Homo sapiens: one gene and its partners. The protein of the gene in region 5 interacts with the protein of the main gene of each other region in a pairwise test. Each region holds a gene or a part of one and is shown on either strand. Other genes may lie near its edges. The genes, in order: MAOB, SH3GLB1, TPD52L2, CCDC34, COQ8A, AKR1C8 and FAM167A.

The links.
Region 1: the proteins of COQ8A (region 5) and MAOB interact in binary tests that used the Homo sapiens proteins (3 or more experiments, as listed by UniProt).
Region 2: the proteins of COQ8A (region 5) and SH3GLB1 interact in binary tests that used the Homo sapiens proteins (3 or more experiments, as listed by UniProt).
Region 3: the proteins of COQ8A (region 5) and TPD52L2 interact in binary tests that used the Homo sapiens proteins (3 or more experiments, as listed by UniProt).
Region 4: the proteins of COQ8A (region 5) and CCDC34 interact in binary tests that used the Homo sapiens proteins (3 or more experiments, as listed by UniProt).
Region 6: the proteins of COQ8A (region 5) and AKR1C8 interact in binary tests that used the Homo sapiens proteins (3 or more experiments, as listed by UniProt).
Region 7: the proteins of COQ8A (region 5) and FAM167A interact in binary tests that used the Homo sapiens proteins (3 or more experiments, as listed by UniProt).

Annotation. Positions count from the first base shown.
Region 1 is NC_000023.11:43,794,972-43,799,189, reverse strand, and holds part of MAOB (amine oxidase [flavin-containing] B), read left to right. Parts: intron 1-1,923; coding exon 1,924-2,065; intron 2,066-3,301; coding exon 3,302-3,451; intron 3,452-4,218.
Region 2 is NC_000001.11:86,711,076-86,715,293, forward strand, and holds part of SH3GLB1 (endophilin-B1), read left to right. Parts: intron 1-4,218. UniProt on the Homo sapiens protein: May be required for normal outer mitochondrial membrane dynamics. Required for coatomer-mediated retrograde transport in certain cells. May recruit other proteins to membranes with high curvature. May promote membrane fusion.
Region 3 is NC_000020.11:63,868,120-63,872,337, forward strand, and holds part of TPD52L2 (tumor protein D54), read left to right. Parts: intron 1-1,176; coding exon 1,177-1,322; intron 1,323-4,218.
Region 4 is NC_000011.10:27,356,505-27,360,722, reverse strand, and holds part of CCDC34 (coiled-coil domain-containing protein 34), read left to right. Parts: intron 1-3,181; coding exon 3,182-3,320; intron 3,321-4,218. UniProt on the Homo sapiens protein: Involved in spermatogenesis. Has a probable role in anterograde intraflagellar transport which is essential for the formation of sperm flagella.
Region 5 is NC_000001.11:226,946,485-226,950,702, forward strand, and holds part of COQ8A (atypical kinase COQ8A, mitochondrial), read left to right. Parts: intron 1-2,998; exon of another isoform or gene 2,999-3,151; intron 3,152-4,218. UniProt on the Homo sapiens protein: Atypical kinase involved in the biosynthesis of coenzyme Q, also named ubiquinone, an essential lipid-soluble electron transporter for aerobic cellular respiration.
Region 6 is NC_000010.11:5,153,569-5,157,786, reverse strand, and holds the end of AKR1C8 (aldo-keto reductase family 1 member C8), read left to right. Parts: coding exon 1-152; intron 153-2,029; coding exon 2,030-2,112; exon of another isoform or gene 2,113-3,604; coding exon 3,605-3,647; 3' UTR 3,648-3,867; downstream 3,868-4,218.
Region 7 is NC_000008.11:11,446,178-11,450,395, reverse strand, and holds part of FAM167A (protein FAM167A), read left to right. Parts: intron 1-58; exon of another isoform or gene 59-396; intron 397-3,622; exon of another isoform or gene 3,623-3,993; intron 3,994-4,218.

The DNA of each region.
Region 1 (4,218 bases), on a different chromosome or scaffold from region 5:
TGACACCATTTCACAGGCTGTAATGATGGGGACTGTCATAGACGGGCTGTCAGGTTGTTACAGCTGCAAATAATGTCAATAATTGGTATGTGTGTTAGGCATGATTCTACAAACTTCTAGGGTCAAGATACAGTAAAGTAGAGAGATGCCCCTTGGTGAGTAGCTGCACTTCCAAGGCTGTCAGCTGACTAATTAGAAAACATTTTGAGGTATCAAAAGCACGAGTTTTGCGTCAAGTACGATCTGACTTGAAGTTGTGTCGTTATATATTCCTAAACTGTCCGAGACTCCGTTTTCTAGCATGTGAACTGTGGAAAAATAATAGATATTTGATACGGTTGTTGCAACAATTTAACAAGATAATGATTTTAAAGACAATGGAGTGTGGAAAGAGTTCAATAAATGGAAGACAATATCATTTATCCCAACCATTGTCAGCATTACCAGGTGGAAAATGCTGCCTCAGATATAACAAGATTAACAATATGCAAACTTCATGTCAAAGTCAAAAGGGGAATTGGACCTTATTAAAGAAATCCCAGAGTGCACACTACTACTGATGAATTTTATGCTGTGCTAGATATAATGGAGTCCTCGAAATTGCATGAGATAGTTTGCTTTCTGGTGTGCTTCCTGATAGGTGATAACCTCTCACCATTTACCTGCCAATGTCAAGCAAAAGCTTACCCATTTATGCTCTATTAATTGTTTGTCCCCTCATCCATTATTTGAGCTTGTCTTCTGTTAGGCAGTAAAATAACTGAATAGATAACTGTGACTAATTTTGTGTTTGGTACAGCACCTAGCATATCCTTTGCATGTTATGGATGTTTAAAAAATTTTGTTTAACTGATATTTCTCATCAATCATTCATTCGTTCAATCATGCAACAAGTAATTATTGAGTGCTTACAATGTTCCAAGCACTATTTTGTTAAAGGGGACACTATGGTGAGTGAGAAACAGAAGATCCTTGTTCTCATAGGTTGATATTCTAGTGGGGGGAGACAGCAATTAAAAAGAATTAACCAATAATCAAGACAATTTCAGACAGTGAAAAGAGTTATAAAGATACTATACAGTAGCAAAATGATAGAGAATGTCAGGATGCTGGGAATATGGAAGCCAGTGGTCGTTTTCATAGACAAATGTGAATATGTCTTTCTAAGGAAACATTAGAGTAAAAAGAAGAGGGTACAAGATGAGACAGAAAAGGTAGGCATGGGCTGGATCACATAGGGCTCTGGAAGCCATGGTGTAAGATCTGAATCTTATTCTGGTTTTAATAGGATACCACTGGAGACTTTTTAAGCAAGAAAATGACATGATTTGATTTATACTTCAGAGAGAGCATCATGGTAGGGAGGGAGGGAAAAGCCTCTGGCTTTGAGTGTGGTGAACAGATACCAGGTGAGGATGAATGGAGGCAGAGAGGCCAGTCTGAAGGAAGTAATTGCAGTACTCCTGGAAAGAGATGGATTCTAAATTTGTGGTGAAGGTGGAGTGATGTGGTGAGAGATAATGGGACTTCCCAATGAATTGGATGGGGGAAGATTGATGGAAAGAGAGAAATAATGTTTGATTTCTAGAGTGTTGGTTTTTACCACTGAGTAAATGATGGTGCTTTTTACTGAGATGGGGATCACTGGAAGAGCAGCAGGAATGTAAGGAGAAATCATGAAAGCACAGAATCTGGAATAGAAGCTGATTCTGAGTAAGGTGTTTTGTTTACAGGGAAAATAATCTGATATTTCAAAAACCTCCGATGTCACGTTTTGTAATATTAGATTCTAGTGACAATTTTTTGACCTTACCACATTGTTTTAAACTTAACCAAGAAAATGTGTTACTTAAATAATTTTTAGAGAATTAAGAAGCTGCTCTCCTGCGTTTGCCAAGTTTGCTCTTGTTTCTTCCTGTGCAGATCTGCAAAGCAGCTTGCCACTCTCTTTGTGAACCTGTGTGTCACTGCAGAGACCCATGAGGTCTCTGCTCTCTGGTTCCTGTGGTATGTGAAGCAGTGTGGAGGCACAACAAGAATCATCTCGACAACAAATGGAGGACAGGTACCCATCCATTCTTCCACAGTCCCAATGGAAAAACACTGCTACTGAAATGAAAGATCATCATCCTTCAATCATGAACTGCTGAAGTGGGAAGCAGGCTTGTGGCTTTTAGAGCATTACCATGGCAGCTCAAAGTGTTTCTTGTAAGGCAGTCTGTTGTCAGGTACCCACTGTGAGAACCCAGTGTCCAATGTAATTTTAAAGCTAGGCTTGTCTCTCTTTATGCACTGTGGCCATTTTCCATACGCTCAATTATTATTTGGTAAGTTTGTAGGAGACCATCTGAATTAAGCTTAGCTTGAGCACTTCTTGGAAAGCTTATAAAGGAAATTCAGTAATGCATTTTCAATTTAAAACACACACTATTCATGGAATTCATTTATCTATTCATTCATTCAATGCCCATTTCTTGAGCCCCGGCACTGTATAAGGCACTGTGCTAGACACAGTAGGAACATATTGGAGTTCTTAAATAATCTGCTTGGTTGTCATGTTCCATTCTTCTCTCTCCCCCTCCTCCTCTTCTTTCTTTCTCTTCTCCTCCTCCCCCTCCTCTTTCTCCTCCTCCTTTTCTCTTTCTCCCTCTCCTTCTCCTTCTCTGACCTTAACTGAAAATTGAGGAGGAGGCAGCCAGGTCAACTGTGTGCATAGCCAGGTAGAACATTTGGAAGTTTTAGCAAGGCTGAGGGCAGGTGGGTACAGTGAGGTGAAATGAGTTCGGTGGCTACAGAAGCAGCAGGCATCTGACCCAGGATAAGATGGGCAGCCTGCAACAGGGAGTAGGCTGGCCTGGGGGAAGGGGACATGGTGGGAGGCAGGGAAGTTCTGCGCTTGAGCCACAAAGCAAGGGGAAGCAGGCTTAGGTCTGCTCAGGCAAGCTAGGGAAGAGCTTTAGGTACAGCTTCACCAGTTCCAGCTCTAAGCAAAAGACTGCAGATAGGACAGAGAGCAGGGATGGTGACCAGAAAGGTGGGATACAGGGGTCATTCTGAAGATGTCCAGCTAAGGTTGGAGTCTGGGAATCTACAAGAGCATAGCTTGTAAAGTAACTTAGAAATCCTGTAACTTTGTCCAAAGACAGCAATTCCTACTTAGAAAACCATGGTGAAAGCCACTATTCACTGCAGCAAAATGAAATGTTAGACATCTCAGAGTAGACATATGTGAGGACAACTAAGAATTTAGCAATTTATGCCCATTCCTGCGTTTCTCTTTCACCTCCTTTTCTCTTTCCAGGAGAGGAAATTTGTGGGCGGATCTGGTCAAGTGAGTGAGCGGATAATGGACCTCCTTGGAGACCGAGTGAAGCTGGAGAGGCCTGTGATCTACATTGACCAGACAAGAGAAAATGTCCTTGTGGAGACCCTAAACCATGAGATGTATGAGGTAACTGTGATATTGTGAAATATATATTTGATCTTCATCCCAGTTTCCTGGCATACAACTTTAAAAATTCTTAGAATCTCCAGAGTGATGTCCTTTGATGCCAATGATTGATGGCTGGCAGCCCCTAGGTAGCTTCAGGATGGGGCTGGTCACAGGAAAGACCATGGAAAGACTAGAGGGTTGGGACTTTCAGCCCCACCCCCAGCCTCCAGGGAGGGGATGGGGCAAGGGGCTGAAGGTTGAATTGATCACCAGAGGCCAATGATTTAATCAATTGTGCCTACATAAGGAAGCCTCCATAAAAACCCAAAACGACCGAGTTCTGGGAGCTTCTGGATATCTGCACAACTGGAGGTTCCTTGAGAATGGCATGCCTGGGGAGGGCATGAAAGCTCCATGCCCTTTCTCACAACTCTTGCCCAATGCACCTCTTCCTCTGTACCCTTTGTAATATCCTTTATAATAAAACAGTAAACATGTTTCCCTGAGTTCTGTGAGCCACTGTAGCAAATCAATCAAACTTGAAGGGGTTGTAGGAACATCAACTGGAAGCAGATTGGTCAGAAATTCTGGAAGCTGGACTTGTGACTGACATCTGAAGGTGGGGGACAGTCTTGGAGACTGAGCCCTCAACCTGTAGGATCAGAAGTTATCTCCAGGTAGATACTGTCAGAATTGAGTTGAATTCAGAGGACACATGGCTGATGTCTGCTATAGAATTGCTTGCTTGCTTAATATGTGGGGAAAAACCACTCCACATTTGGTCA
Region 2 (4,218 bases), about 140 Mb from region 5:
TGCACCTTACAGTTTACTAATACATTATTCAGAATCTGTGTTACATATTTTCCAAGAAATTTAAATTACTTTTAGAGTATTACCCTTTAGTAATACTGGTGATTAGAGTTTGCATTAAATAGATGTCTTTGATCACACACCCATTTTATTTGTAGTCTTTTTTTTTTCTAAAAGTAGAGTTTGGAATCCAGGCTCCTTATTTAATAATGTGGGTTATATGCCTATCCTGTAGTAAAAGAAGGATTACAGTGCCTGGTATAATGTAGCCGACTCAAAGACAATTCTTTCCGCAAAGCAATATTTAGAGAAAATATATAAAAGGGGATTAAACTTTTATTCTTATGCCACTTTGCCATATTACAAATGAAATATGAAAAAATTAGGTATCAAATTATATTTTAGAAAACATTGAGTTTAATGACTTACTAAGAAGATGCTTATTTACAGTTTGCCTTTTATTTTAGGTTGTTTACACAAAAGTTCTTAATTATTAAACTATACTGCCATCTATTCATTAAAAGATATGCTTAAAATCAACTAGTTTCTCATTAATACCTATTATCAAGAGATTACAAAATCAGTAATGATTTTTGACTTGAAGATGTTGAAAACTAAAATTTTTATGGGTTAATTTAAAATTTTTTGGTAACTAGGAAAGGGATCTTTTTTTAAAAGAAAGAATTAATAGGTCTTTTGCCCTTCTGAAAAGGTGCCATTATTATAATTTTGTTTGAGTCAAGGCAGTATTCTCCTAGTAGATCATAAAATCCTTGAGGGCAAGAAGTACATCAGATGCTGATCATCTTGCTGTAGAAGCCATAAATATTTTTGATTAGTAATTTAAATATTAATTTAGTTGAGATGACTCCTAGTGTCTGTAGTAGACGCATTATTTACAGTGCTTTAGAGAAAATGTATTAAATATTGTATTTGTTATCTTAATAAAGTGTACTTCTGATTAATTATGGAAAAATCCTTTTGCTTCCACCAATGATAAAATTTGGGAAATATTATGTCTTTTACAATTATATATTTAAGTAATAAGATTTAAATTTATAATTTCAATTTTAAAATATGATAGCATTAGCAATGTCCTTATTGTGTGTCTTCCTCCCTTTTATTCATTCATGATAGGATTTAGTTTACTAATTTTGGTGAATAATTATTGAATATCTTGTAGAAAGCAGAAGTGATCTGGGGGAGAAAGCTGTCCAGAGTGCTGCGAACAGACATAGGAGAAAGGAAGCACAGAATATGATTGGATAATAGTAATAGAAATAGAAAATACTAATTTTGGAAATCAGCAAGTATTTACTGGAAGGGTAGTATAGCATGATAAGACTATGACTCAAACAGATGTGAGATTGAATCCCAACAATGACACCTTGGACAAAGTGTTTAATCACCCTGAGTCTCAATTTATTAATCTCTACAATTATTCTTACTTTATTTTAAGATTCTTTCGAGTATTTGTTGTAGAATGCACAGCTTAGTTAATGGAATTTTTGAACATACACTAAGCCTTGACACAGAAGTATGAGAAAGATGTAAATGGATGTGCTGAAATGTGAAACATAGAAACATTGTCATGTGACCCTACAGTACTGCTATTTTCTAAACAGGTTTTCTGTAATTAGACTGTCTCACTCATGTGTAAGGGTTCCATGTATCTTCTGAACTAAAATAGTTAAAAAAAAAAAACCTACTAATTGTGTGTGTTTGTAGAATCTTTATCAGTTAACATATTTTCTTTCTTCCTCAGACTCATACAAATAAATCACTTGGTGCAAATACCCATCTTTGCTCTGTTATACTTTCATACTCTTTTCAAAAAGAATATATATTTATTGAGATACCTGGGAGGTAGTATCATGAGAGTCACAAAGAAAATGTTAAATAATTAAGCAAACAGGCCTTTTTACCTGAAGATTGAAGTGTTTTATTTTCCAAATAATTAACTTTCTAATTGCTGATTTTCCTGAAATACTGTCGGGAGAAAACTTGCCCTGAACCCCAGTTTGTATCAGATAAATTCAGTGACTATTTTATTTTATATTTATTTATTTTATTATTAACTTATTAATTAGAGATAGGGTCTTGCTGTGTCACCCAGAATGGAGTGCAGTGGAGTGCAGCTGGGACTACAGGTGTGCACCACCATACCTGGCTAATTTTTTGGATTTTTTTGTAGAGACGTGGTTTCGCCATGTTGCCTAGGCTGGTCTAGAACTCCTGAGCTCAAGTGATCTGCCTGCCTCAGCCTCCCAAAGTGCTGACATTACAGGCGGGGGCCCCTGCTCCTGGCCATAAGTACTGATTTTGAATTATTGATCTGTTGATTTTTCTATTAATCTATTCTTGGTTATTAACTATAAGTTAAGGATTTCCACAGAGAAATTAATATTTAATATGTGTGAGGGTGATGCTAATGAGCTTAAAGAAATTGTGCAACTGGAAGATAAATCATCAGGACTATACACTCTTTCCTTAGATCTTAACATAGTTCATATCATTCAGTCACAGGTCGTTTGTTACCTACTCAGAGATGCTGTTTCTCTAACTACCCGCATCTCACACTCCTCAAACTCCTGCTCCCCTTTCTAGGCCCAAGTTGCCCATCCCTCCCCCACTGAAGCCTTCCCTGATTCTCCTGCTCTCCCTCTTCCTCTCCCTGAAGAATGAATTCTTTCTCTGTACTTGGATTTGTATGTCACTCAGAAACAAACCAACCATGTTGGTCCGCTTTACCATCTTCATATCTTTATATCCTTATTATCAGATTATTTATTTATCTATTGTCTGTCTTTGCCATTAAAATGTAAGCTTCCTAAGAACAGAAACCTTATATGTTTTGTTGGCTGCTGAAACCCATGTGTTTAGAAGAGTGCCTAGCACATATGTAGGTGCTTAATAAGTATTTGTTGAAGGAATAAACAAAATGAACAAACAAATGGATAAACTTGCTTATTAAAGGGAAATTTATGCATGCAGTTTCAATTTTTAAGGGGCTAAGTGAATTTTTTTTAGATCACTCTTTATAGGTGATGTTCACCTGAGTGAAAGGTATTCCCTTTCTTCCCTTCCTATTGGTCACTTTATCTGGGAGTTATTTTATCTAGCCATTGGTGGTAGACTTTGAACATGTAAAAGTCTAGTAGGAGGTCTGTTGCTTAGAATCTTCAGGGATCTGTAAAGACTACGGGGTTCTCTGTTAAGAATGAGGTTGCATAGTTTATCCAGCTGGCCTTGGGATCAGGGTTTGCTTTTGCTCAGTGCCCAGTCCTCCAGCTACACTGCAAGTTTATGGGCTTAGGCAATAGCTTTGTAACTGCTATTTTTGGTTCTACCCACTAGGTCAGGGGCTGGCTATAGACCATTCTCAAAAAGACCCAAGGCTTTACAAAAGCTATTTAAGCTGTTATTTCTAGCCCCTAAACAGGAGCCTCAGTGGAGATTGTAACCAGAAGTCTAAGAATAGAATTCTAGAGGATCCTTCAGCTTAAGGTGTTGATAATAACCTGAAAGTATTAAACCAAGAAGAAGGATGCTGAAAGAAACAATAAAACTCAGAAAATAGAGTAGCAAACGAGATTTTTGAGAAACGAAAGGAGAGAAAGGCAAGGTGAACACTGTTTTGTCAGCCAGAAGTGAGTCATTACTGAGCACAGAATTAATGCTAGTGATATACCTGTGTTAAGATGGGAGGAAGCCACATATTCTAGAGGAAAATGATGCATGATAAACAGCTTGAGTCATCACCTCTAATGTTTAATTAAAAGTATCCAGAAGGCTGTAGATCTACACAGAATCTTTTTACTGCTTTATTATTATATAGGCAGTGCTACCTTTTCTCAAATACCAGTATATTCAATAATAAAAATTGATTCATTGAGTACGTTTAACCACATTTTATGACCTTTAAAAGATGTCTTCATAGTATGAATAGGATATGTTCCAAAAGTTAGTCTATAAATAAATTGCTGGAACATATCCTCAGCAGCTTAAATGACAGGTTTTATGGTATGTTCTGGGAAACTATTTATCTAACTAGGTGTGATTAAAGTGCTAATAAGACATAAACCACAATAAACATTAACAGCTCTTTCAAAACTTAATAATTACAAGGCACCAAACAAAGTGATTTGCATACACAATCATACTTAATCCCCCAAACACTATAAAATATGTATTGTCTCTCTTTTATAATAGAGGGTACTA
Region 3 (4,218 bases), on a different chromosome or scaffold from region 5:
TCAAGCTGGTCTCGAACTCCTGACCTCATGTGATCCACCTGCCTCGGCCTCCAAAAGTGCTGGGATTATAGGCATGAGCCACTGCGCCTGGCAGTAAGCCTGTTTCTTTTCAGAATGTTTTGGTCAACAGGGAAAGTGTTACAATAGTCATGTGCTTGGATTTGGAGAGAATCGAAATAGACTGTTTTTCTTTATGTGAAATCTTGTAGACTTTTAGGGTAGTCAGGAAGATGCATTTGACATGAAGAAAAAACAGTGGCTGCAGGAATTTGAATGTGATCTGGGTGTAGTTGAGGTGTGTGGTGGCAGCACACCGCTCTGCACCTCTCTGCCTGCTGGCGGCCTTCTGGCAGTGGGATGAGAATCGGGAGGTAAGTAAAGGGAATTTTGTTTTGCTGCCTCCCTGAAGGAGCTGAATGAGCAGCATGTGCTCCTAGTACGTAATTTTAGCATGTGCTCTGTCAGATGTGTTGAGAGGAAAGTGATGCTTATTGTGTATATTAACCATATTAGGTTCCTTTTTTTAAAAAAAGTGGAAATTTGTCAGGGTATGGTGGCTCACACCTGTAATCCCAACACTTTGGGAGGCCAAGGCGGGCGGATCACCCGAGGTCGGGAATTGGAGACCAGCCTGGCCGACATGACGAAACCCCGTCTCTACTGAAAATACAAAAATAGCCAGCGTGGTGGCGTGCGCCTGTAATCCCAGCTACTCGAAGGCTGAGACAGGAGAATCACTTGAACCCGGGAGACGGAGGTTGCAGTGAGCTGAGATCGCACCATTGCACTCCAGCTTGGGAGGCAGAGTGAGACTCCATCAAAAAAAAAAGGTGGAAGGTCTGTTAGATTGAGCTGCTTTCTCTGTAGCAAGGGTTTCCTGCCTCTGACGATAGTATTCTCACTGGGAAGCCAGAATTCGGGTTTGCCTGCCTTGGGCCGGCATTTGTCGTGCCCTGAAGCAGCACAAGTGGCATTGGCTTTTCAGCTCAGGTGGTCTGAGGTGTGGCTGCCCTCGTCTACTGCCCATGCTGTCCTCACAGACCTTTCAGAGAAGAGGTGTTAGTCTCCAGGGTCTCACCCACTCCCACCTGTGCTTTTGTCCTGCTAGAGACCTCTACCGTATTTACTTGGAACTAACTTATTTGACACTTTGTGGCCTCATTTTGTCTCTGGCAGATATCAACCTGAATTCTCCTAACAAAGGTCTGCTGTCTGACTCCATGACGGATGTTCCTGTCGACACAGGTGTGGCTGCCCGGACTCCTGCTGTTGAGGGTCTGACAGAGGCTGAGGAGGAGGAGCTCAGGGCTGAGCTTACCAAGGTGCTGTGGCTTGGCTGTCTGTCCTGGGGTGAATTGGAGTTAAGGCCCTCTTGGATTAGTGAGAGGCCAGGGTACTGGCCACGCTCGGGAGGAATTGCCCTGGGTGGTCACCTACCCTGCTCTGTGTTCCGACTGATAACGGGGTTCTCTTTGTATGTGCCCAGCTCCATGCACTGGACTCAGAGCCACCTGGCAGTGGAGACAGGGCATGACTCCCTTCCCATACCTCTGTGCCTGGCCCTTCCTAAGTGCTCCCTGAGGAGTGTTCACACATGAACCGCCTCTGAGCAGCCATCTGCTGGGAGTGTCTCTGTTGGAATTAACACTTGATAATCATTTTTAAGACCCCATGAATCTTTCTTGTCCTGGATCTTAAGTTTTCTTTTAAACATATTTATTTTGGCTGGATGCAGTGGCTCATGCCTGTAATTCCAGCGCCTTAGGAGGACAGGGTGGTAAGGTGGGAAGATCACTTGAGCCCAGGAGTTTGAGAGCAGCCTGGGCAACACAGTGAGACCTTGTCTCTACCCCCAAAAATTAGCCAGGTGTGGTGGCATGTGCCTGTAGTCCCAGCTACTCAGGAGGCTGAGGTGAGAGGATTGCTTGAGGCCAGGAGGTCAAGGCTTCAGTGAGCTGTGATTGCATCCTGCACAGCAGCCTGGGTGACAGGGCGAGACCCTGTCTCAAAAACAAAACAAAAACTTCTTTTCTAAAAAGTATTTATGTGATCTTCTTTAAGTGAGAGTCCCTTAAGAGTAATGTAGGAATTAAGAACAAAAGCCTCCAACCATAATTTTTAGTCAAACCAACTGCCAAGAGTTTTCTTTTCACCCTGTGATGTGGTTTAATTCCAGAATCTGGGTCCAGGCCTAGGTCTGAGTAAGGTTGGTTGTGCCGCTGAGTCTGAGGACCAGGTTTCAGATCCTGAGGACATCACACAGCTATTTCTAGCCTAGAAGATTAAAGGAGAGTAGCAGGAAGTCCAAGGACACTTTGCTTTCCATTTAACTTCAGAATATGTGAGTTTAGAAACTAAATCCACAAGGTTTTTTTCAGAGTTGAATTACAATAAGGTGAAGTTTTTTTTTTTTTTTTTTTTTTTTTGAGTCGGAGTCTCTGCCGCCCAGGCTGGAGTGCAGTGGCGCAATCTCGGCTCACTGCAACCTCCAACACCCGGGTTCACGCCATTCTCCTGCCTCAGCCTCCTGAGTAGCTGGGACTACAGGCGCCCACCACCACGCCCGGCTAATTTTTTTGTGTTTTTAGTCGAGATGGGGTTTGTTTTTTTTTTTTGGAGACAGAGTCTCGCCCTGTCGCCCAGGCTGGAGTGCAATGGTGTGATCTCGGCTCGCTGCAATCTCCGCCTCCCAGGTTCAAGCGATTCTCCTGCCTCAGCCTCCCGAATATCTGGGATTACAGGCGCGTGCCTCCCTGCCCATCTAATTTTCGTATTTTTAGTAGAGACAGAGTTTCACCATGTTGGCCAGGCTGATCTCAAACTCCTGATCTTGTGATCCACCCACCTTGGCCTCCCAGAGTGCTGGGATTACAGGTGTGAGCCACTGTGCCCGGCCCCTACAAGGTGAAGTTCTGTATTGCTTTTTTTTGTTGTTTTTCTTGAGACAGAGTCTTGCTCTGTCGCCCAGGCTAGAGTGCAGTGGCGTGATCTCAGCTCACTGGAGCCTCTGCCTCCCTGGTTCAAGTGATTTTCATGCCTCAGCCTCCCAAGTAGGTGGGATTACAGACGCCTGCCACCACACCTGGCTAATTTTTGTATTTTTAGTAGAGACAGAGTTTCACCATGTTGGCCAGGCTGGTCCCGAACTCCGAGTCTCAAGAGCTCCACCTGGCTCAGCCTCCCGAAGTGCTAGGATTACAAATGCGAGCCGCTGTACCCAGCCAAGAAAGAGAATTTTTTTTTTTTTAAGGACGGAGTCTCACTCTGTCGCCCAGGCTGGAGTGCAGTGGCGTGATCTGGGCTCACTGCAGCCTCCACCTCCTGAGTTGAAGTGATTCTCTTGCCTCAGCCTCCCGAGTAGCTGGGATTACAGGCGCACAGCACCATGCCTGGCTAATTTTTGTATTTTTAGTAGAGACGGAGTTTCACCACGTTGGCCAGGTTGGTCTCGAACTCCAGACCTCAGGTAATCTGCCTGCCTCAGCCTCCCATAGTGCTGGGATTACACGCAAGAAAGAGTTTTTTTTTTTTTTTGAGACTTTTTGCTCTTGTTGCCCAGGCTGGAGTGGAATGGTGCGATCTTGGCTCACTGCAGCCTCTGCCTCCCAGGTTCAAGTGATTCTCCTGTCTCAGCCTCCCGAGTACCTGGGGTTACAGGTGCATGCCACCACGCCTGGCTAATTTTTGTATTTTTGGTAGAGACGGCCTTTCATCATATTGGTCAGGCTGGTCTCGGACTCCTGACCTCAGGTGATCTGCCCGCCTCGGCCTCCCAAAGTGCTGGGATTACAGGCATGAGCTATCGTACCCGGCCAAGAAAGAGAATTTTTAAAGAGAAGCTAGTCATATATGAGCTGAAGATACTGAGAACTCATTCTAAAGTGGTAAAGCTTTGAATGATGCCCCTTTCAGAGGTCATGTTCTTTTTTTTTTTTTTTTTTTTTAAAGACCTGAGAAAGTTCAAGTCTTCATGATCAGGAATCTTTCTGTTGCTCAGTTCTAACTACGTTAAGCACAAAAGATAATTTACCTTTTGGTTCGTGTAACTGACTCTTGCCAAGGTTTGGAACTGACCTCAGGAACACAAGTGTTTTCTTAAGGGTGTTTTTTTCTGTCACCTGTGTCACTGTCCATCTGCCTCCTCCTCTCTGCATATGGAATTCTATGAGTGCAGACGGTGCCCGGCTGCCAACAGTTCCAGCTTCTATTGTCCAAGCC
Region 4 (4,218 bases), on a different chromosome or scaffold from region 5:
TAAACCACGTTCTGGTGTTCAGGTTTGGGATAAGAGTTCTGGAGTCCACAATCTGGCTTTTGAGGTCAAACTGCTGACCTCTCTTTGGTGCCCTGGACAGCTTGGGGGTGACAGGATGAAGAGAGCAGGCAACCTGAGTCAGCCCTTTCATTGTTCTGGGTTTTGAGTATTCTGTGTGAAGCAGAGAGCAACCTAGAGCTGTGTGGGATTTTATGCCTTTTCTCCATGCCTCACCTGCCATATTGATCTGACTGGCAAAACGAATCGGGTAAGGCTTCTTTGAGCTAGGCTCAGGCATCAGCTGCACATAATGGATATTACCTCAAGGTATTTTTGGTATAAATAGTGCCATGTTTAGAGGATGCATTGACCTTCAAGGGTATTGGTCAGAACTGAGATTAAGCTCAAAGTTAGCTTCAGACAAGATAATGAGAAGCGTTTTCCTGGAATATTTTACAATGTGCTCTGGGCCTGCTGTTTATTCAGCTTTATCCTGGTTTTTCTACCACTATCCATTAGGAAAACCATGCTGTAATAAATATCTTGTTCACAAATGGCCACTTGTCAAGCCTTTCTTGATTATAAGTAGAGCTGTAGTGTGTGCGCCACACATTTTGAACACATTTGTTATAAATATTAAGGAAGGAAATTTAATATTCAAAGTGTCATTTCTTAAAAGAAAAGCCCACTGATCTGATTGTCTTTCAACAACTGTTTCCTAGGACCCTACTATATTCTAGACCCTAAGCCAGGCTCTTGAAATAAAAAAATGAGTTGAGATATATTTTCTTTAAGGAACTCATGACCTGTGGCAGAGATGAGCAAGTGACAGGAAGCCCAAGAGTTGTGGCTCCAGGCAGTGCTGGAGTTGAATTTTGAAGGGACAGTAGGAGTTCGTCATAAATGACTTACTAAGTACTTACTGAGTGCCTGGAACTATATTAAGTGCTTTAGCATGGATAGTTTCATGCAATTCTGCCTGTAAGGTAGCCAGCCACAACTGTCATCTCCATTTTATAGACAAGAAAACAGAAGCTTAAAGAAGTTTTTTAAAAAATGTACATAGCTTAGCTGGGCGTAGTGGCGGGCGTCTCTAATCTCAGCTACTCGGGAGGCTGAGGCAGGAGAATGGTGTGAACCAGGGAGGCGGAGCTTGCAGTGAGCGGAGATCGCGCCACTGCACTCCAGCCTAGACGACAGAGGGAGACACCGTCTCAAAAAAAAGAAAAAAAAAAGAAAAAAAATGTACATAGCTAGGAAGAAGCAGATAGGATTTCACCCCAGGCTGTTTTACGCCCAAATCTAAGCTCTTAATCTGACTTTATGCGGAGGTGGAAGAAAGGAATTTCAGATTTAGGTGAAAGTTACAGGGCATGGGGCGTGGCACATTCATCAACCTGCAGGGGTTCCTAGTGAGTGAAATGTAGAGTCTGGATCAGCCGTTGGTGAAAGAAGAGGCTGGAAGATAGGCAAAGGGCAGATTCATGGGTGTCAGGCTAAGGAGTTTGGATTTTATCCTGTGGGTAAAGATGCCATTGAAGAACTTTAAGATGAGGAGTGACATGATAGAAAGATAACATTTGAGGGATGAATCTGGCAAGAGGTGTGGATAATGATTTGAAAGGGAGAAAGGGAGGCCAGTTTTGTCCAGATGGTGGTTGTAAGGTTGGAGGAAACAAGAATGGCTTTCAAAAATGGAAAGAGGAATTAACATGACTAGGTGATCATGTGGGTATGGGAGGTGGTGGCGGTGGGGGGGGGGGGTCCACATGTTGACAAGGAGCAGGTGGAGTCAAAGAGCTAGGGCTTCTGGCTTGAGTAACTGGCTGGAGGGTGATAACATTCACTGACGTAGGATTGTAAGAGGAGTATACTTTCTTGGTGGGAAGGGTGGTGGGTGGATGGTAGAGGATGATTAGATTTGTTTTCAACTGATTGATATTTAAGTTGAGTTATGTATCACATAGTTGGAAATAAGGATCTGGAACTCAAGATGACGGTCTGGCCTGGAATTACTGATATAGACATCATCAGCATGTAGTGGTAGTTGAAACTGCACTACAGTGGGGGCAGATGGGTTCCTTCTGCAAGACTGGGAAGGAAAGACGCATATAAGAAATAACACATCAACAGTGTCTCTTTCCCACTAGAATGCAAATTTCATAAGGGCATGAATGAATGAAGAAATAATAGTAGCAGAAAATAATGAGTAAGCTGAATCTATGAAGTAGAAAAGTTGTGCAAAGCAGTGGGTGAAGCAATTGGTTGCTATAAGCAGGAATGTGAAAGAGACAAAGAACTGAGTCTGTAATAAACTAGTCTTTAGAGCTACCTTATGTCCTGAACAACCTTGCTTTCTATGGCTGCTGATTGTTAAGCTTTTTCTCAGTTTCATGAGGCTTGTGTATCTGGCCAAGACCCTGTGTTCTTTATTTATGTATATACTTATTTCCCTGCCCCTCTTCTCTTTACCCTGAATTGTTATTTTTCCTTACCCTCAGAAGAGACAGACTGACAGAGGTGCATGGTGGAGATGGAGACTATGGTAGGAGGTAACCAGACTAGAGAGTCATACACACCCTGTCTAAGGATTGGCAAAAGGGTGTCAACCAAAATGTTAAAGAATGTTTTGTGGCTTCTTATTTCAAAACAATTTCAAACTTATAAAAAAGGTGAAATAATATAAAGAACTTTCATTTACCCTTCACCCACAGTCCCTAATTGTTACATGTTTGCTCTATTATTCTCTTTGTGTGCACTACATAATCTTTTTTTCCTGAACTACTTAAGGGCGGGAAAGGGAAGAGTCTGCTTCAGTATCTGATTAGGATTATATGTTGTAATGAGTAATTAGTTATCCAGGTAAGATTTTTAGAAATAAAAAAGTGTTGGCATTGAGGCAAATGTATAGGGTGTGGGTTATCCCAATGGGGTTTTAAATAACGTGGTTTTAGAAGGTGAAGGAATTCAAAGGCAGTTTGATAGGTAAACTAATTCAAATATTAGAATTTCTTTTCATGATTTTTTAAATGTATACTTATGTATAATTCCTGTATATTTGTAAAAATCACAATATTGAAAATACACTATTAAGTTTTGCTTTTACTGTACAGTTAAGTGATTTGGACTAGGAAGCAAAAGAGGTTCTTGTACAAGTACTATAGTAGCCTCTCTTTTGTAGCACTCAGGTTGAATCAGAAAATAACCAAGAAGAACAGAAACAGGTGCGCTTACCAGAAAGCCGCCTGACACCATGGGAGGTGTGGTTTATTGGCAAAGAAAAAGAAGAACGTGACCGGCTGCAACTGAAAGCTCTAGAGGTAAAACTAGACAGTGTTCTTTTTATTTAATCTGTGAGCTCACAAAGTAGAGCTGCAGTTGTAAATTAAAATGTTAATGTTATTATTCCTGAAAACAAAGTCTTTGCATTTATGTTAGTTTACTATATCAAATTTAATAACTAATAAGTTATAATAATAGAAATATGTTCATTGTTAGAGCATTTGGAAAATACAGCTAAGCATAATTAAGAAAATTAAAATCTCTTCTAATTTCACTGTCTGAAGATAATCATTGTTAGTATTATGACATAGCTTTCCAGATTTTCTTCTATGTAAATTATTTTGAAATACGTACAAATGTATGTATAAGTTGTATGTCTACATACACTGGAGCATCAACATATGTACATTTAACTAAAGTAAATTCAACTGTATACACTCGGCAAAATTTTTAACTTTACTGAAACAAAATAGAGGCAAGAATCTACCTGCCCCCCCCCACCACCCCCAACCCCACCCCACCCCACCACCCCCAACCCCACCCCACCCCACCACCCCCAACCCCACCCCACCCCACCGTGTGTCACTCAGTGAGCATGTGCCCTATGTGCTGGGCGGTGGGAAACTGCTTGCTAGTCTTTCAGGGTGTTTCAGTTTCTCTGTGCCTCCCTCACTTATGGACATTTCCATGCGTGAGTCTCTTTTGAACTTTTACTATATGAACTCAAAAAATAAATAGTTGTAGATGCATTTTCACATCTCTTCTTTAATGAGAATATTCACATATTTTTTGAACTCTTACTGTTTCAGAACATGGCAACCAAATAGATTTGGATAATTTGGCATCCCCTAAACCCACTATCTAGACTATCTGAATTCTTCCTATCCAAACACTGAAGCCAGATAGATTTGAATGATGAGGGACACTTCTTCTTTT
Region 5 (4,218 bases):
CCACAGTGAAGGGCCTTGCTGGCCAGGCCAGACCAGGGAGAGTGGAGATCAGCAAGGAGATGGCCACCTCTCCTGGGTCTGTGGTCCCCTTGCACCCTGCTGAGCCTCTTCTCATTTCTCGTTGCGTGTGTGGTTGTTGTCTGTCTAGGATTGCCCCTTGTCTGGGTTAACTGGGTGATTTTAAAAGCTATCGAGGTTTTACATACACATGTAGTGCCTAAGGGTTGTGTGTGACCTCAGGGCAGAACATGTTTATTTAACTTCCATACCAGTGATGTGTGCATGTCCACACCTGGCCTGTGTGTGGCATTTGGAGGTGATGCTAATAAAGGTTGGTGCTGGTGTTGAGTGTGGCAAGACTGAGGGCCGTGTGCCCGATGGCTCCTCCTAGCTCTTGCACACCCAGAGGCAGTCTTCAGTGTAGGGCGTCTGCCTCTTTCCACTATTTATGTTTAAGATCAAACTGGCTCTGGAACCAAGCTTTGCCTCTAGTGGGTAGGATCACTGGTGCTGAGAATTGTGATACCCTCAGTCCTGGCAGCTGACAAACTTTCCAGAGCAGGGAGTTTGGCCAGATGGCCTTTGAGAGCCCAGCTGGCCCCAGAATTTTTATGACTCAATTTTCTGTAACCAGGAAGACACATTTCAGGATGTAAACCTTGCTGATGTCTCATATTGAGTGACTATTGATTTAACAAAAAAGGAGTTATTGATTTGGGGCAGTGTTCTTCTCTGCTATCTCTCAGCTTCCTAGGCAGTAAGAAGAAAGGACTGGAGCCTGAGTCAGACAGGTGTGGAAGGGTCCAGCATCCCACAGCTTTGGCCCTTAGGAGATTGCTCAGCCTTGATGAGCTTTAATTATCCTATCAATGAGTGGGGATAATACCTCACCAGGTCTTTGTAAGAACTAGAGGTAATATAAAGTGACAGGCAGACAGAGGGGAATAATAAATGGTAGCTGTTCTTGTTATTATTCCTATTTCATTGAGATATTAAACCTGAAGTAAAAGTGTTTTGAAAGATTAAGAATATAAAACCGAGGCCAGGCACGGTGACTCACACCTATAATCCCAGCACTTTGGGAGGCCGAGGTGGGCAGATCACTTGAGGTCGGGGGTTCGAGACCAGCCTGAGCAACATGGTGAAACCCTGTCTCTACTAAAAATACAAACAAATTAGCCAGGTGTGGTGGTACCCACCTGTAGTCCTAGCTACTCAGGATAATCACCTGTGCCTGGGGAGGTTGAGGCTGCAGTGAGCTGTGATCATGCCACTGAATTCCAACCTAGGCAACAGTAAGACCCTGTCTCAAAAAAATATATATATATATATATCTATCTGCCTGGCATGTAGTATGGGCCCAATATAGAGAAAGTCAACAGGACTCCGTCATTAAGAACAGGAATGCACTGAGCTGTCTGTGGGGTAGTCTACCACCCAGCTTGGTGCCTCGCACTTGGTTGGCATTCAGTAGTATTTGTGGAGTGACCAAAGTTAATTTAGAAGAATGGTCTGGAAATTATTCTAGAATACAGCCCCTCTCCCCAACCCAAGGATCTGCTTTAATTTCCTATGGCTGTTGTGATAAATTACCACAAAGTTTGTGGCTCAAAGCATCATAAATGTATGATCTTACAGTTCTGGAGGTTAGAAGTCTGAAATTGGTCTCACTAGGCTAGAATCAAGGTATCAGCTGGGCTGGTTCATTTCTGGAGGCTCAAGGGCAGGACCCGACCCCTTGCCTTTTCCAGCCTAGAGGCTGCCTGCATTCCTTGGCTTGTGGCCTCTTCCTCACAATGGCATCACTCCAGCCTCACTTCTGTCTCCCATCACCTCGTTCTGACTCTGCCCTGCCTGCCTCCCTCTTATATGGGCCCTTGTGATTACATTGGGCCCACCTGGATAATCCCCCATCTCAGGATCCCTGACTTCATCATATCTGCAAAGTCCCATTTGCAGGTAACATTCACAGGTTCTGGGGATTGTGGTATGGGTATCTTTGAGACACCATTATTCAGCCTACCACAGCCACCCACAGTATTTTGGCCAGATTTAAAGACAACCCTGTAAGCGTCTGAAAGAAACGTTGAAAGAAACCCTTCAACCTCAACTTTAGGATCCTTAATTACCTTCCTGGGTGGCAGTGGTTCGTGAATTCAGTCAACGCTTGCGCTTGTAATTTGTGTGGGTGGATCACTCTGTGTGTGTGGGTGGAGTGGGAAGAGTCAGAGTTGTCTGAGACAAGAGCCTCCCACAAGGAGCTTATAGTTTGAAGAGAAGAGAGGTCCATGTGCAAGAAGAAGAGTAACTTACAATGTAGGAATCTGACCAGCAAGTTAGATCAGCTGTCAGGAGAACGTAAATATGGAAGAGCTGGGAATCAAGGGCCTGAATAGGAATACGTTCTTGAATTTATATGGTGCTTTAACACATTTCAAAGTATATCCACCCACCCCTCCATTTATATTGGACAATATAATAACTTATACCATCATTTCGAGGAGAGGAAACAGGTCAGAGATGGTTCGAGAATATGCCTGGAGCAGCCCAGCTGGTCAGGGCAGAGCTGATTCCCAGCCCCAAGGCCCCAAGGCCCTCACCCTTGGCTAATGGGTGGGTTTTCAGACGTACAGAGATGAAGGGGCGAGCGGGCCTGCCTGAGAAAGTAGGACCTGCAGAGTGGAGTGCGCTCACATGGCTCGCGCGTAGCTGGAGGCTGGAAAGGAGGCCGGGGGCCTGATTTCGATGCCTGGGACTTCAGGCGCAGGAGTTTGGGTTTTATATATATGTCTACATACATGTCTACAGGTAGAGGAGCCATTTGAGCAACGCGTTGGCATGATGAACGTGGGTTTTTTTATAGGGAGAGGAATCTGGCAGGAGAGTGTTCCATGGCTCGGAGCTGGGGAGCTTGTGGGAGTTAGAGGGGTTTTCTTCCCAACTGCCTCTCCCTGAATGTACCTGGACAAAAGCCTCCCATGCTGTTTTCTCCTTTAAGGTGAAGTGGTAAGGAATACCAGTGGACATTTGTGTCCCTGGTTTCGAAGCAGGCTGCCAGCACTTTGGACTGCCTCTCCTGAATGATGCCTCATACCACAGCACTAAATAAACCACACTGGTCCTCCCCAGCCCAGCCTTCCTCCCAACTCAGGTATGAGACTGTGCCTGGCAGGAACAACTGCGGGTTATCCAGACTGATCCCATTCACCCTAACCGTTGGTCTCACCAAGTCTGAACTTCATTCCAGAATGTCTGTGTGCTTGCAATACTACTACTAATAATAATGGCATTAGCTAATGGTTTTTAAGCACCTACTATATGTCCTGAATGCTGTTACATGGATTTATCCAGTCCTTTCAAGAACAGATGAGGAAACTGAGGCACAAAGATAAGCTCACATGACTTGATTTAGGTCACACTAGCAAGTCAGTGGCAGAGTCATGATGTGAACCCAGATCACCTAACCTCAGAGCATCTTAACCATGTCACCAGTATCACTTCCTGAGCCAAATATTTTAATTTAAATGTTTTAAGCAGTAAACTTCACTAGGTTTTTAGTCAGAAAACTAAATTGCCATCAGGACCTTGCGCTTGGCTGGTTGGCCTTTAAAAGCCTTGTGTGTCATCGGCTATATCAACTCACAGAGTGGGAGAGGCTGCTTGGGACCCTCTGTTGCCTGCCTGTGGTTGGAGCTCTGAGCCCATGCAGGTTCGCTCACAGTGTTGGGTCCTTCTCTGGACTATCATCAGAGGCTGGAACTTTGCCTTCTGCTGCTTTTATATCACCCCCAACCCTGCCCAGCTCCCAACCCAGTGCTCACCACAGGGCAACTCACCCAGGGAATCCTAAGAATATCTTAATCTTCCAATGGATGGAGAATGGAGGTTTGCAGCCTGGGACATCAAAAACACACTGTTTTGCTCTTTTTCTCCTCTTACCTGTTAAACAGGTTGCCTAGCTCCTGAGCCATGATGGATCCAGGTCCCAGCTTTACTTCTTAAAAGCTGTGTGACTTCGGGCAAATTACTTAACCACTCTGTGCCTTAGCACCCTCATCTGTAAAATGGGCATAATTTACCTTTTGAAAATGATTGAGTTAATACATCTTTGTGCTAAGTAGAACACTGAGCCCAGAGCCTGGCATATACTAAACCCAGCAAAAGCAGCTGTAGTTATCATTGGCATGGTGGGCTGGTTCTGCTGCTCACAAAATGAAA
Region 6 (4,218 bases), on a different chromosome or scaffold from region 5:
GCCCACATCTCTTGGAGGAGCCGATCTTGAAATCCATTGCCAAGAAACACAGTGGAAGCCCAGGCCAGGTCGCCCTGCGCTACCAGCTGCAGCGGGGAGTGGTGGTGCTGGCCAAGAGCTTCTCTCAGGAGAGAATCAAAGAGAACTTCCAGGTAAAGGTTGAGCAGAGTCGCTCCAGAGTGAGCCATGGGTGCTGATCTGGGCGATCTCTCTTACATGGGAGAATGCGACACGTGTCATTCATTCCTGTGCTCTCCACTCTGTGCTAAGGGAGGAGGGCAGTGTGGAAGGATCGACGAGAGGGCACTGAACTCAGAGTCCTCAGGTTTATCATCTCTAGGCTTGGCTTTGCCACTTACTAGTTGGTTGACACTAAGCAAATTTCAACTCACTTATTTTCATCCGTTTCAGGAGTTCTTCTACATGGTAATGAACTTTAAGGACCCTGATTCTTCTCCTTCACCTTCTCTACCTATAAATGCCTATTTGTATTTTAAAATCAAACCCAAATAAAATTAGCTGCTCTGTTAAACTACTGGGACACCCCAGGCCAGTTTTCACCACAAAAGCCCCTGGCCTGGCATGACTCTGTTAGTGAGTTTTTTGTTTATTAATTTTACATCATTTGCTAATACTTCAGTGTGCTCTCTGGACTGTGAGAACCTAAATACAATGGCTCCTTCTGGATTATCTTTTATTACCCTTCCCCTGGCAGTGACTCTAGCAGGTATGAAACTAGGCATAAGTTTACAGACCAACCAAACTAAGAAATTGAGGAGTGAAGTTATCTTGTAAACCCTTCTCCACATCCACTCTGGACCTTGTATTAATCACAGGTCTCCAACTTATTTTGTTTTGAATCCCACAAGAATTTTGAAAAAATATGTAAGCTGTTTCTCATTTTAAAATGACAGCTACAAATTTTATTATGAGTTTAATATTTACAAGAGATGACATTTGAGTCATATATAATGTATTTATTTCAAAATATTGTAGTTCTAGATTAAGTATATTAACTTGTGGAAAAATTAAATAGGTAAATCTAAATCTCATTGTGACAACTTAAACAAAAAATGCCCATTTTATTTTTTGATCCAATTCAAAATGTTAATACCTGCTCTCATGACAACCATATAACTTCTGAAGTACATTTTTAAAAAGAGTGGTGGATAAATGTGTTGGTAGATAGAAAGAAGATGGACGGATACATATAGAGAAAGAGATAAATACATTAGATAGATAGATAGATAGATAGATAGATCTGAGTCTTTCATGAAATTGTGTCCTGGATCACATAATGAAAGTAGCATTTTTTTTTTAACCAAAAAATATCTGTTTTACTATTAATGGGCTCCTCATCAGGGACTATGTGTTGACAAATGAAAACTACTCTTGACTTAAGTAAGAGAGATTTATTAAAAATGCAGAACTCTTTGAACATAAGATCTAAGTGTCTCAAAGATCAATTAGTAAGCATTTTTTATAAGGAAGAGCAAACACAGCTGGAAATAGTATTTAGGGGTCCTGAGGTGAGCAAGTAGAACAGTTGTCCAGAAAATGCTTTTTCTGAGGCAAACAGATTCTTGAGTGGGAGTTTCCTGTGTTCTAAGGCTCTGTCATTCCAAGGCTGGATCAGGTTCCACGGGAAGTGAGGAAACAAATCCCTGACCAAGTGTGGACATGTCCAGGTGGCAGTTATTTTGCATACTTTATTTTCTATTTTAAAATAAAGGATTTCCTTTTTCTGCCTCAAGCAATTCTCAATAAATATTTTAGATTGATGAGTGCACACCTTTCTTTTGAGAAGTGGAGCCCAGTAGGAGAGGGATGGGATGGAGAAGAGGCAGAATGAAGGTGGAAGAGGTCTCAGGTGGAAGACGTCTCAAGCCACATGCACCTGGAAGCTGATGAGGATGAAAATGCTTCCCCCAATGCCATCCTTGCCTCTGCCTCCTGGAAAGTCCTTGTATTCCCATGTAGAAGCTGCTGCCCTGGGGAGGGGTTAATGTGAGTGTTTTCTTCCTTTCAGATTTTTGACTTTGAGTTGACTCCAGAGGACATGAAAGCCATTGATGGCCTCAACAGAAATCTCCGATATGACAAGTTACAATTGTAAGTGATGCTTGTAGATTCTCTCACAGGCTGTTTTCTGTAGTATGCAGGGAAATGGGGAACACATCTTCCCTACATCAGGAAGACAGGCCCAAATTCAGGCATGGGGTGAAATAGGAGATGCCCTGTAGCCTTCAGACCAGAGGTTTCCTCCAGGACTCAATCTCTGACCCAGCAGAAATGTGTCTGTAAGTGAAACTGCCAATGTCTGCACCATTGTGAATCCAATTCTTGAAGGCCCTTACTATCTGTGCCTGGGTCTAGCACTCAGGGCCCACTGCCTATGAGTCTAGAAGGCTCAGTGTGTAGGACCTACAAACCTATAGGGGCCCATCATAACGTTCTCTTTAATTTATATTAAAATCAGAAGAAAAATGAATACAATAATAATGCATATGTAATAATGACTCCATCCAGCTCTATCTTTGTGTTTACATCATGGCAATGGAAACACAATTTAAGTATTAATACAGGATGGGCCCATGAAGGCAAAGGTGCCTGTCTCCTAGGGAAGCCTTAATGTGGTATTCCCTCTTCAGGATACCAACTATTTCTGCAAAAATTTATGTCTTTCTTGGCCCTCTTTACCTACCACAACTCCCATTTCCTCAGCTATATAATCTCACCATGCTGAATTGTGAATGAATTATGAGATTAATAGACCCTCAAATGCTAGTGACTGAGGTGTCAATAGCCTTTACCAAGATAAGATCCTTTGGAGTTTCTCTGGATCCTCAAGGCATGACTCTTACTCCAGTGTCATCTTTGTCCACCTGAAGTCCACCTCTGGAGAGCCCAACATCCCTTGACTTTGGTTTATTTATAAACGTGACGTTCCAGTTGCTCAACTACTGCAGGATCTCAGGACTAAGGAGAGAGAAGGCTAAATAGAGAGGAGTTTAGAGGAAAGTTTAGAAGCAGGGGAAATACAATTTTGGTTGCCAGAGTAAAGACTCAGTCTCCAAAAAAGATCTGAAGAATCCTCCTTTATGTAAAACCACACCAAGATTCTGAGAGGAAACATTTTCAATGAGAAAAATGTGGGAAGTAACTTTTCTGTACCCAGAGGCTAAGTATAAGTCTGTGATCTGCCTTATGAGACTGTGAATGCATTGTCTTACTCATGTCTGTGGCCCTGTGTCAATATGACTCCTGGCACATTTAACTGCTTAGAAGGTACTCTTTAATGTCACCCAATTAAAAAGAACAAATTGTAAAAAAGAAAAATGAACATAAAAAGGAAAACAAACAGTAATTTTAATTACTAACAAGTATCTTTATGATTATATTTAAATAAGTCATAATTGTGTTTTTCAGGTGTGGGTATTAGAAATGCATCTCATCCCCTCCATAGATTAAACCATGTGTGCCGAGGTACAAGTAGGGACGTGGTGGTAAATTCGGGAATTTTAGCCCATCCCAAGTGCTTCTTCAGAAAAACTCTTTGACAGAATGGAAAAAAGTTACTAAATTAATATTTTTTCTCTTTCAGTGCTGCTAATCACCCTTATTTTCCATTTTCTGAAGAATATTGACCATGAGCTATTGAACATTACCACCACAATTTCCTCCTTTTAGGTGACAGAGAGAGGATTTCAGTATTTGATAGAGGAGTAGGAAGTAGGATCTGTAGTTGCAGGTTGCTTGCCTTTCTTTATTTTATGAAATGAAGACTTTAACAAGAAGATGTTTGTTTTTCCTGATTATTAAAGTAATACCCATAAATTTTAGAAAAATAAAAAATACAAAAAAAGACCTGTAATTCTTTCCTTACAGAATACTTATCATTTGATGCATTTTCCTTCATGATTTTTCTAAACAACATGTCTGATATGGTTTGGATCTGTGTCCCCACACAAATATCATGTCAATGATAATCTCCAGTATTGGAGGAGGGATCTGGTGGGAGGTTATTGGATCATAGGGGCGGTCTTTACCCTTGCTGTTCTGGTGATAGTGAGTTCTCATGAAATCTGGTTGTTTAAAAATGTGTAGCATCTCCCCTTCACTCTCTTCCTGCTGCTCTGGCCACATGAAGACGCGTCTGCTCCCCCTTGCCTTCCACCATGACTGTAAGTTTCCTGACGCTTACCCAGCCATGCATCC
Region 7 (4,218 bases), on a different chromosome or scaffold from region 5:
TTCATAGGGCTGTTGTGAGGATTAAATGTGTTAATACATGTAAAGCTTTTAGCACCACAGCTCGTGTGGTGTGCTGTAAGCATTAGCTAATGTTGCGATGACATAATTGTTTCTCTGATGTGCTCGGGTTGTCCTGGGTACACACAGCCCAGCCTGGGCAAATCAAGCAAAACTTCCCCCAGGAGAAAATCCCTGAGAACTGAACTAAGGCACAGAAGGGAGTGAAGGGCTTTCCAGGCTGGAGGAAAGCTTGTGCCGAGTCAGGGGTGTGAAAGAGCATGGTGTCCGGCGGGACAGGAGTGCTGGGTCGGGGTTGGAAAGATTGTGTCTTATGGAGAAGAAACGAAAGGGTTCTAGTGGAGAATGCGAGGCTGGAAGGAACAGCAGGAGCGCGTGGTGAGAGGAGGTGTGGAGGGGATGGGTCAGCAGTGCCTGCGTCTTCCCCTGCCCTTGGGAGCCCATCGAGGAAGTGGATGTGACCGTTTTCCAGGTGAACAGATTAGGTCATAATGAGACAAGGTGTTGGCTGAGCTGCCCCCACCTGGCTCCTCCAGCAGCCAGAGGAGTTAGCTCATGGTTGGCGAAGGCTCCTCCAAGGAGCCGCTGTGGGCCTGGGAGCCAGGGAGCTTGTTGGAACAGCAGTCTCTGTGTGTGGCATGGGTCCTCGGCACTGGCACACAGAGCTGCAGAAAGGCTGACGCGCCCCCCCAAGGGCTTGTCCCCACTGCTGCTGGGTGGCCTGCCTGGCGGGGCGTGCCTGGGCCTGGTGGGATTACAGGGTCTGATGTCGTTTTTCTAGACACCCTAGGTCCCAGGTCTGGCAGCGTCCTTTGGCTTCCTTCTCCGGCCCCTCCACCCCTAGGAACGACCCAGGTTACATGTAAAGAAAGCCCGTTTGTTTAGAGTGTTGGGGGGCTCTTCCTCCCGGGGCCTGGGCCCCAGGAGTCCCTGGTTTGTCAAGCGAGGGGAGGCCTCCACTGCTTTTCCAGCCCAGGAAGCTGCCCAGTGCTGGCATCTGTTCCCCGGCACCCGGCCAGCACCTCTCTGCCGGCTCAGGCCGGGTCCAGCTCAGTGCCCAGTGAGCAGTGACAAGCTTTTCTGCTGTCACGTCCCTGCGCCTGTGTGGGTGACATTCCAGCTGAGCTCCTGTGCCTAGTGGGAGGGAAGAAACCCCTTTGGGCTTGTTCAGGCACCAGGGCACCCAGGGGGACAGTGCTCCCCAAACACTGACGACCAGGAAAACACATGCTGCTTGAGCAACTCCTCGCGGTCTGACTGTGCTGGGGGCAATCCCATTCCTGCAGCAGCTCCTCACCATCTGGCTGTGCTGGGGGCAATCCCGTTCCTGCCAGCTACGGGTGACCACCTGCTCTAAAATAGTGACTCCCCAACTCAGGCCTCTCCACATTGCACACACGCCTATTCAGGTGGGTACAGCTCTTTACAGTTTAAAGAGAGCTCTCACATACCAGGTTCCATAGATCCTCAGCCATTGCACAGATTAGGGAACTGAGGCCACGAGGAAAGGACTGAGCCTGGGTGCTCGGCTTGTCAGCAGTGCTGGGACCAGAAACCAGGCTTCTGGGGCCTGGCCTTGGTCTGCCATGCAGAGAGCACAGGGTGGAGTCTCTCCAACACCCCGAGCCGTGGGCGGGGCATTCACAATGTGAGCAGAGAGGGAAGGGAGCAGGCATGGAATGGTTTTAGTAAGTGGAGCTGTTCTCTCCCTTCTATGGCAGAACAGACTCCACTAAGTTTTGAGACCTGAAAATCTGGGGGAGGTGGGATCAACTGACTTCGTGTCGTTTGGTGTCCAGGGAAGGATGTGAGGGGGCAGGGATTGTCTTGGGCCACCCAGCAGGTCAGAGACCAACAGAGTGTCTGCTCAGTGCAGTTGGAGGGTCATGATCTGTCATGTGACGGTGATATAACTCTGATAGGTTATGTCATCTTAATAATGACATTTTAAAAACCATGACTAAGGCTACATGACTATGTCTAGGGCTTCCTGTAGACCAGGCAGTGTGCTGAGAGCTCACATTTGTAACCTTATTGAATCCCTGATTAGGACTTACGAGGTAGATGTTATTATCCCCAGAACTAGCCTCATGGCTGTGGGCAGTGGCACAGGGCCCCTCGTGTGGGTTCATGCTCTGCTGTCCCTGTCTTGAAATTCTTAGAACTTTTTTTTTTTTTTTTTTTAAGACAGAGTCTCGCCCTGTCGCCCAGGCTGGAATGCAGTAGTGCGATCTTGGCTCACTGCAACCTCTGCCTCCTGGTTTCAAGCGATTCTCCTGCCCCAGTCTCCCAAGTAGCTGGGATTACAGGCGTGCGCCACTACGCCCAGCTAATTTTTGTATTTTTAGTAGAGACGGGGTTTCACTATGTTGGTCAGGCTGGTCTTGAACTCTTGACCTCGTGATCCACCCGCCTCGGCCTCCCAAAGTGCTGGGATTACAGATATGAGCCACGGCGCCCGGCCAATTCTTAGAACTTTTTAAACAAGGAGCCCCGCATCTTCGTTTCATACTGAGCCTTGTGAATTATGTAGTCGTTCCGGTTGTTCTCATTTCTCAGAAGAGGACACAGAGGCCCAGAGTGGTCATGAAGCAATGTGCCAGCGTCACAAAGCCAATGGCTGCCCTGGAGCTCTAACCCAGAGCCCACACTCTCCAGAGTAGAAAGAGGCTGAGACAGAGTCAAATGACTGTGCCCAGGTCCAGCTGCTGGCACCTGCCTGTGACCAGGAGGTGAGGCACTTCACCTGCCCTAGCCTCGATTTCTCCTTGGTGAAATGGGGTGATCCCGCCTGCCTCTGGGGGCTACTTTGGGGCTCACATGGGCAGATGTGCACACTGTGTTTTCTGCACTTCACCAAGCTCAGCAGATCTGAGGACCATCACTAGCTGGTCACAGTTCACAGGGGCTAATGCCCGTGCCACCAGATGGTCCTGACATGGTCTATGCAGGCCTTCACCTGAGGTCAGCAGTTCCAGACCAGCCTGGCCAAGGTGGTGAAACCTTGTCTCTACTAAAAATACAAAAAATTAGCTGGGTATGGTGGCAGCTGCCTGTAACCCCAGCTACTCGGGAGGCTGAGGCAGGAGAATCGCTTGAACCCAAGAGGTGGAGGTGGCAGTGAGCCAAGATCACGCCATTGCACTCCAGCCTGGGTGACAAGAGTGAAAACTCCGTCTCAAAAAAAAGAAAAAGAAAAGAAACCAATAATTGAAATAAATTGTCTGCAATACAGTTACAGACTTGTAGCAGTTTCCTACCCTGAGAGGAGCCCCTCACCCAGCAGTGGTAGCCCAGTGGGATGCCCTCACCTCTGCAGTGGGAGCCTGCTGGTGGGGGAGGGGGTGGGCCACCAGGGCTCCTCATCCATGTTATCTCCTCACAGAACTCAGGGCGGGAGGGTGCTGCTCATCCGCCTGCAGTTGAATCCTCTCCAGGAAGCTTTGATGGATCTAATCAGAGCTCCCCTGCCAGGGAGAAGGAAGCCCTGTAGGTGCAGCTGCCCCAGACATGCTCAAAACAGATCCTGGCACCTCAGCAAAGAGGCAGACGGCGCCTGGGAGGGGCCCCAGAAAGCAGCTGATAAGTCTTTAGATTTGGACAGATTCTGACCGTGAAACTGCACAGGAGACTCCCATGAGTACATTTCGCATTTGCGGACTTAGCGTGCTAAGTCTTCAGAGAGTGCCGGTGAATTTTAGTTCTGCCAATCTGCTAGAACATAGGAGGTTGGTATTTATCACTCCCATTTTACAGATGAAGAAAATGAGACTTAGCAAGCCTGACAAGACGTAGAGCTAGGCCATCTGATCCCAACTCTAGTGTCTGCATCTGGAGACAGTGGTTCTCCACCCCGGCTGCACACTCGGATCATCGGGGGAGCTGAACACTGCTGTCTAAGTCCCATCTCTCGACCAATTGAATCAGAATCCAGTTCCTCAGGGGGATTCTCGCTTGCTCCAAGCAGAGCTGGAGGTGACAGCGGGTTTCTCTGCTTACCAGTTGGGGTGGACTATTCCTTCTCATTCTCCATGGATGCCCCTTGCTAGGGCAGGCTCGTAGCCTAGGGCGGCAGAGGTCGGGCAGCAGGACGTCCTCCATTCACATCCCCACCACAGGCTGGGGCTGAGGAAAACGTCTGGACTGGAAAGTTCTGCTCTCCTTTCTTAAGCGTCTGCGTGCCATGTCGGAGAGGAATCC